2 linked regions of the Homo sapiens genome follow. Changing the gene in region 1 together with any one later gene gives a genetic interaction. Each region holds a gene or a part of one and is shown in the gene's direction. Other genes may lie near its edges.

The links. A genetic interaction does not mean that the proteins touch.
Region 2: changes in TOP2A (region 1) and LLGL1 are lethal when combined (synthetic lethality), as found in Homo sapiens cells (one large-scale study listed by BioGRID).

What each region holds. Positions count from the first base shown.
Region 1 is NC_000017.11:40,393,539-40,397,697, reverse strand, and holds part of TOP2A (DNA topoisomerase 2-alpha), read left to right. Parts: intron 1-1,232; coding exon 1,233-1,415; intron 1,416-2,158; coding exon 2,159-2,249; intron 2,250-4,159. UniProt on the Homo sapiens protein: Key decatenating enzyme that alters DNA topology by binding to two double-stranded DNA molecules, generating a double-stranded break in one of the strands, passing the intact strand through the broken strand, and religating the broken strand.
Region 2 is NC_000017.11:18,235,635-18,239,463, forward strand, and holds part of LLGL1 (lethal(2) giant larvae protein homolog 1), read left to right. Parts: intron 1-972; coding exon 973-1,126; intron 1,127-1,200; coding exon 1,201-1,305; intron 1,306-1,846; coding exon 1,847-2,139; intron 2,140-2,432; coding exon 2,433-2,580; intron 2,581-2,821; coding exon 2,822-2,975; intron 2,976-3,829. UniProt on the Homo sapiens protein: Cortical cytoskeleton protein found in a complex involved in maintaining cell polarity and epithelial integrity. Involved in the regulation of mitotic spindle orientation, proliferation, differentiation and tissue organization of neuroepithelial cells.

The sequences.
Region 1 (4,159 bases):
AGTTGATTTTTGATAAAGGGAAGAACATATTAGGACTGAGAAGATAAAAAGAGCCTAAATGTGGAAGAAGACCACCAACCCAGTCCCCCAAGTCAACTTAAAAGGACAAAGCCACAGGGCATGGTGGCTCATGCCTGTAATCCCAGCACTCTGGGAGGCTGAGGTGGGCAGATCACTTGAGGTCAGGAGTTCGAGACCAGCCTGGACAACATGGTGAAACCCTGTCTCTACTAAAAATACAAAAATTAGTTGGGTGTGGTGGCATCCGCCTGTAATCCCAGCTACTCAGGAGGTTGAGGCAAGAAAATTGCTTGAACCCAGAAGGCAGAAGTTGCAGTGAGCCGAGATTGCGCCACTGTACTCCAGCCTGGGTGACAGAGCAAGACTCCATCTAAAAAAAAAAAAAAAAAAAGGAGAAAGCAGGGCTATCCAGATGGTTTCAGAAGGTTATTTGTTACTTAAATCTTCCTAATAACATTTGTTTCTCAACATTATTTTAACATAAGAAAAAAGGCCAGCACTGTGGCTCACACCTGTAATCCCAATGTGCTTTGGGAGGCTGAGGCAGGAGGATCACTTGAGATTAGGAGTTCAAAACCAGCTTGGGTAACGTAGCAAGACCTCATCTCTACAAAATGTTTTTTTTAAATAGCCAGGCATGGTGGTGTGGGCCTATAGTCTCAGCTACTCCGGAGGCCAAGGTGGGAGGATCACTTGAGACCAGGAGTTCAAGGCTGCAGTGAACTATGATCATGTACCATTGTACTCAGCCTGCGTGTCTCTTAAAAAAAAAAAAACAAAAAAAAAACCACCAAAAGCTTTATTTCTTAAATTTAACATGCAAATTTGTATTACTGCACTTCAGTATAGATGCCTAGCTCATTGTAATCAGTTGGTTGGATAAGTGTGCATCACTTCCTTTCATATTTTGTATGTGAGTTTACAAATATATATGTATATACATGTTTTATTTTTAGTTTCTCCCTTGTTTTCCTCAAAAAGGTTAAGTGGTAGAATCAGGAATAAAACCCAGTCCTTCTGTCTCCACACCTTCCTTTTCAAGGTGTGTTTTAATTACATCTTCACTATTGTTGATAGTATACTAGGTTATGGAGCAATTTATCACTAGTTTTTAAGATGTAACAAAATGAAATCAGTTTAACTGTTGGGTGTTTAGATATTGTAATGTTTTTGTTAACATTTAAACTTGCTTTCTTATATCCCTTCTGTAGGCTGTTGAAGCCAAGGAAAAACAAGATGAACAAGTCGGACTTCCTGGGAAAGGGGGGAAGGCCAAGGGGAAAAAAACACAAATGGCTGAAGTTTTGCCTTCTCCGCGTGGTCAAAGAGTCATTCCACGAATAACCATAGAAATGAAAGCAGAGGCAGAAAAGAAAAATAAAAAGAAAATTAAGGTAATACTCTTGTGGTGGCTCACACCTATAATCCCAGCACTTTGGGGGCCAAGGTGGGTGGATCACTTGAGGTCAGTGGTTCAAGACCAGCCTCCCAACATGGTTGAAACCCTGTCTCTACTAAAAATTAAAAAAATTAGGCGGGCATGGTGGCAGGCGCCTGTAATCCCAGCTACTCGGGAGACTGAGGCAGAAGAATCGCTTGAACCCGGGAGGCAGAGGTTGCAGTGAGCCAAGGTCACACCACTGCACTCCAGCCTGGCCAACAGAGCAAAACTCCATCTCAAAAAAAAAAAAGAGGTAATACTCTTAAAAATATTATGCATAAAATATTGATGCATATGTCCACTTAAAATTGAAAAAAAAATGTATAAAATTTTTTTGTTGTTGTTGTTGAGATGGAGTCTCGCTGTGTTACCCAGGCTGGAGTGCAATGGCAGGATCTCAGCTCACAGCAACCTCCGCCTCCCGTATTCAAGCGATTCTCGTGCCTCAGCCTCCCAAGTAGTTGGGGGCACATCACCACACCCAGCTAATTTTTGTATTTTTAGTAGAGATGGGGTTTCACCATCTTGGCCAGGCTGGTCTCGAACTCCTGACCTCAAGAGATCTGCCCACCACGGCCTCCCAAAGTGCTGGGATTACAGGCGTGAGCCACCGCTCCCAGCCAAAAATGTATAAAATCTCTAATCCCATAGTTCAGAATTTATTCTATATCCAACCCTAACTTTGCTATCTTTTAGAATGAAAATACTGAAGGAAGCCCTCAAGAAGATGGTGTGGAACTAGAAGGCCTAAAACAAAGATTAGAAAAGAAACAGAAAAGAGAACCAGGTATTACAACATTTTTAGAAAAATGGTATAAAGTGAAGATTAAATTGTGTTTGTTACCTAGTACATTCCACATAGATGTTCAAAACCTTTTTGTTGAATTGAGAAACGTGAAAGAGGACTGTATCTCAATTCTACTTGGACCTCTTTTTTTTTTTTTTTTTTTTTTTGAGACAGTTTCACTCTTGTTGCCCAGGCTGGAGTGCAATAGCACAATCTCGGCTCACTGCAATCTTCACCTCCTGGGTTCAAGCGATTCTCCTGCCTCAGCTTCCTGAGTAGCTGGGATTATAGGTGCATGCCACCACGCCTGGCTGCTTTTTGTATTTTTAGTAGAGACGGGGTTTCACCATGTTAGTCAGGCTGGTCTCAAACTCCTGACCTTGTGATTTGCCCGCCTTGGCCTCCCAAAGTGCTGGGATTACAGGCGTGAGCCACTGCCCCTGGCCTGGACCTCTTTAATATCGTCCTTGGGATTTGATTCATTATAGAAAATATTTTGTAATGAAGTAGTTTGTTAATTTGAATTCCTTAATTGGGATCTAAGAAAATACCCAGTTTATTAGATTTCATTTTCTAGCCACTTACGAGGTTCTAGTATACAAAGTTTCTTAAGAAAAGTGACTACATATTAGTAATGTTTGTAGTATCTCTAGAGTTCAACATCATGCTTCGGATATAAATAATGTCCACTCAATGAACTAAATAGAATTAATAATTCTGTTAATCATTTGATAATGCCTTTACTGTCTACTTTTTTTGAAACATCTTTATTGAGATATTCACATGCCAAATTTGCCCATTTAACGTATACCATTTGGCTGGGCGCCATGGCTTATGCCTGTAATCCCAGCACTTTGGGAGGCTGAGGCTGGCGGATCACTTGAGGTCAGGAGTTCAAGACCACCCTGGCCAACATGGTGAAACCCCATCTCTACTAAAAATACAAAAATTAGTTGAGTGTGGTGGTGCGTGCCTGTAGTCCCAGCTACTCGAGAGGCTGAGGCACGAGTGTCGCTTGAACCCAGGAGGCAGAGGTTGCAGAGAGCCAAGACTGTGCCATTGCACTCCAGCCTGGGTGACAGAGCAAGACTCCAACTCAAAAATAAAAATAAAGTATGCCATTCAGTGGTTTTAGTATAGACAAACAGTTTTAATACAATTTATTGCCCCCCAAGAAAACTGAACTCATTAACAATCATTTGCCATTTGCCACCAACTCCTCTCCACTGGGTGACCACTAAAAAATCTAGGGGCATTTCCTATAAATTAAATCATATAATATGTGGTCTTTTGGAGCTGACTTCTTTACTTAACACATTTTCAAGGGTAACCCATGTGGCAGCCCATATATTAGTACTTCATTCTTTTTTTTTTTTTTTTTTTGAGGCAGAGTTTCGCTCTGTCGCCCAGGCTGGCATGCAGTATGCAGTAGTAGTGAGATCTCGGCTCACTGCAACCTCCGCCTGCTAGGTTCAGGCAATTCTCCTGCCTCAGCCTCCCGAGGAGCTGGGATTACAGGCACGCACCACCATGCCCAAATAATTTTTGTATTTTTAGTAGAAACAGGGTTTCACCATGTTGGCCAGGATGGTCTCAAACTCCTGACCTCAAGCGATCTGCCCACCTCGGCCTCCCATTTTGCTAAGCCCGTGAAGGTAAACCTCTGTGTTTTCTTCTAAGCATTTTATAGTTTTAGCTCTTACATTTAGGTCTGTGATCCACTTTGAATTAGTTTTTGTATATGGTGTAAGGAAGGTGTCCAACCTGATTCTTTGCAGGTAGATATCCAATTATTTCAGTATCATATGTTAAAAAGACTTCTTTCTACAATGTTTGTCTTCACCCTTGTCAAAAATCAATTGACTATAAATGTTAAGGTTTATGTATGGAGTCTCAATTCTGTTCCACTG
Region 2 (3,829 bases), about 22 Mb from region 1:
CTGGCCCCTGGTGGGACCAGGTAGTTCCTCCTTGCCCAAGGTGGTTTGGAATGAAACCTCCCTGGACCTTGGTTCAAGGTGCTGCCCTGATCTGCCTTTTGGCCTGGAACTGAGCTCTACCAAACCCCAGGGCTCCACCCGCCCAGCCTGCCTGCCCTGGGACTGGAAAATCTGGGCTGGCCCACGCTGAGCTGCCCAGGGAAGGTGCCAGAGAGCCCAGCGTGGGCCTGGCGGGCGCTGACGTGCCCAGTGACTCAGGTCTCAACTTCCTGCCCTGCCCCCACTCCCGCCTGTGCTGGGACCCTCAGGCCTCTGACTCTGGTGTGCCCTTCCCTGCTGAAGAGCTTGCCGTGGCTTTCAGGGCTGCTGGAATGAGTCTCAACCACCCCCACAGTCACACACCTCTCACGCCCTGGCTCTGGGCTTTCACCACCGCCTGGGGCCCTGCTTGGACTCTGCAGCTGTGTCCCAAGGCTGCGCCCTAGATTTGTCTACTCCTTCCCCTGCCCCCTCCCTGCTTTCTCCCGGCCTCTGTAGTCTTCCTGCTCCTCCACCTACGTGGCTGCCTTGGGCCCCATGCAGCTCCTCCCCCGGGATGCCCCATGCTCTGTTCTGTGACTGCCTTACTCTTGATCACCTCTGATGGCTGCTCCAGTGCAGGCAGAACCCCCAAAGTCCTCTGTTCTCTACATGTCCCCCTTTGCCACCTCCTGTTAATCAGGGTGGTCATTTCCACCTTGTTTGGTTTAAAGGCTCCAGGTGCATATGGTGCATGTGGCCTGGCCTATAACAGGTGCACAGTGTACCTGTGCTGTCTACAGTAGGTGCCTATTGTTTTTTGTAAAAGTAGGATTCCGGTCAGTGTTTGGCACGTGCAGTAGGTGCTTAGTGAGTGGTTATCAGATGAGTGAATGGAGGGGCGTGCAGGCCTCCCAGGAACTCGGGTAGCCCTGACATCTGCCCTCCCTGCAGCCATGAGGACGGCACCGTGAGGTTCTGGGATGCCTCGGGTGTGGCGCTGCGGCCGCTCTATAAGCTGAGCACAGCTGGCCTCTTCCAGACAGACTGTGAGCACGCTGACAGCCTGGCCCAGGCTGCCGAGGACGACTGGCCACCCTTCCGCAAGGTGGGCCCCTCCCCTGGCCCTGATGAGCTGGTCCTGACCCCGCCTGGACTCATTACTCCTTCCCATCCCTCTAGGTGGGCTGCTTCGATCCCTACAGTGACGATCCCCGGCTTGGCGTGCAGAAGGTTGCTCTCTGCAAGTATACAGCCCAGATGGTGGTGGCTGGCACTGCAGGCCAGGTAGGGCTGGGTGTCCCCTGGGTTGGAGATGTCAGGGAGGGCTTTCTGGAAGAGATGAGCTGGAGGGTCTGGTGGAAAGGGAGATGGACTGGCACAGGCAAAAGCCAAGGTGGGAATAGGGCTCTGGGTGGGGCTGGCTGGGGTGAGGACAGATGGGAAGTGGGCCTGTCGCTGGGGGAACCACAGTGTTGAGAGGAGGGAACTCATGTCAGTGCTGTGCTCCGGCACTCACATGACATACAGGAGGTGCTCAATGTGTCCTTATTGCTAAATGGGAGATAGAGGCTCAGGGTAAGGGTGGACACTTTGCCCTCAGAGGGCAGGGACTAGTGTGTCTTGGTCACCACTGTGTTCCTTGTGCTCAGCCAGGGCCTTGGTATACAGTAGGCATTCAGTGAGTGCTTGTTTAGCTGATGAACTGAAGACAGTCCTAGAACCACCTTGGTGGTGGCTGGGGCTGCTTCAGAGGCTCCAGGCTGAGTGGGGCCCAGGGCGGCCCCTCCCCTGCGCTGATGCTCCCCCTGCCTGGCTGTGGGCTCAGGTGCTGGTACTGGAGCTTAGTGATGTGCCGGTGGAGCAGGCGGTCAGCGTGGCCATCATAGACCTCCTCCAGGACCGCGAGGGCTTCACATGGAAGGGCCACGAGCGGCTGAGCCCACGCACGGGGCCGCTGCCCTGGCCTGCTGGCTTCCAGCCCCGTGTCCTGGTGCAGTGCCTGCCGCCAGCTGCTGTAACCGCTGTCACACTCCACACCGAGTGGAGCCTCGTGGCTTTTGGCACCAGTCATGGCTTTGGCCTCTTCGACTACCAGCGCAAGAGCCCTGTGCTGGCCAGGTGTGTGGGGTGGGGCCGGCTGGGCAGTTGGAGCCCCCAGCGAGATGGGGTCTGGGCTTCCGTTTCCACCTCTAGTGTTTGGTGTGGCAAAGGCCACTAACCTCCATTGCCCTATAAGAAATAACCTGGCAGCTCCAAGAAGGACATTCTCAGTACCACCTGCAGCTGGGTCCATAGGACTGCGCCAGAGGGGCTGTGACTCCCTGACCTGGGTGCCTCCACAGGCCAGCAGGAGTGTGGTGGCTGCCCCAGGAGGCTGCTCTATAGCACGACTGGACCCTGTCTTCCCCCAGGTGCACTCTTCACCCCAATGACTCCCTGGCCATGGAGGGTCCGCTCTCCCGGGTGAAGTCTCTCAAGAAGTCACTGCGCCAGTCTTTCCGGCGCATTCGCAAGAGTCGTGTCTCTGGCAAGAAGCGGGCTGCTAATGCCAGCAGCAAGGTGAGCTGGGGTGGGCTGCACAGGAGCTGTGCCTGTGTCCTGTGCCTTGGCCTGGCTCTGGCCTGGGACCCCTGGGGCCTGCTTAGCTCAGTGCTCCTCCCTCGGCAGCCCCTGGGCCCTCCAGAGGGATGGGTGAACTAAGCTGGGTGGTAGAGGAATGGTAACAGAACGTAGGGCGCAAAGCAGGATGCAAGCCACTGGGGTGCTAGGGAGACAGTGTTCAGGAGCCCCCGCCCGGCAGTTGCAGGAAGCCAATGCACAGCTGGCTGAGCAGGCCTGCCCCCACGACGTGGAGATGACGCCCGTGCAGCGCCGCATTGAGCCCCGCTCTGCCGATGACTCCTTGTCGGGTGTCGTGCGTTGCCTATACTTTGCCGACACATTCCTTCGAGATGGTAAGGCAGGGGCAGGGGCAGGGACAGGGCAAGGGTTGGGGGGGCTGGCCTCAATTGGCCACCTGGGAGATGGGTGGTGGCAAGGGAGGTGGTGGGACTGCACCTTCCAGGAGGTGGCTGGGCACGGTGGCTCAAGCCTGTGAGTGATCCCAGCACTTTGGGAGGCCGAGGTGGGCGGATCACCTGAGGTCAGGAGTTTGAGACCCGCCAGGCCAACATGGTGAAACCTCGTCTCTACTAAAAATACAAAAATTAGCCAGGTGTGGTGGCGGGCGCCTGTAATCCCAGCTACTTGGGAGGCTGAGGCAGGAGAATTGCTTGAACGTGGGAGGCGGAGGTTGCAGTGAGCCGAGATCGTACCACTGCACTCCAGCCTGTGCAACAGAGTGAGACCTTCTCAGAAAAAAAGCTTACCATCCAGCTCTCCCAGGGGGACTGCTGGGTCACCCCCAGTCTCTCTGGGGGAGCTGGATGGTAAAGGATTTTTGAGTGAGCTGGGTGGGCCTCTCAGATCTGAGCCAGGAGAAGGGAGGTTGAGGCCTGGTGGATGACGGTGAGGGGCACCAGCCAGTGCCCAGGCCCCGAGCCGGGCATGTGTGTGGGCAGCTGCCCAGCCACTTGGCTGGAGTGGAGCAGGTGAGGGTCGAGGTGTGTGGTTCAGGGAGATACTGCTGCTGGCCAGAGGCTGAGGACCTGGCTTTGATTCTCAGTGGCCTGGGAGCCCTGGGAAGGTCCTGGATTTGTTGATTGAGTCACTGATTGATTTTGAACTTGTACAATGGGAGAGTTTCAAACATACACAAAAATAGAGAGGTGCAAAGTTGTCCCACATACCTCACATGCCTGCCACCAGC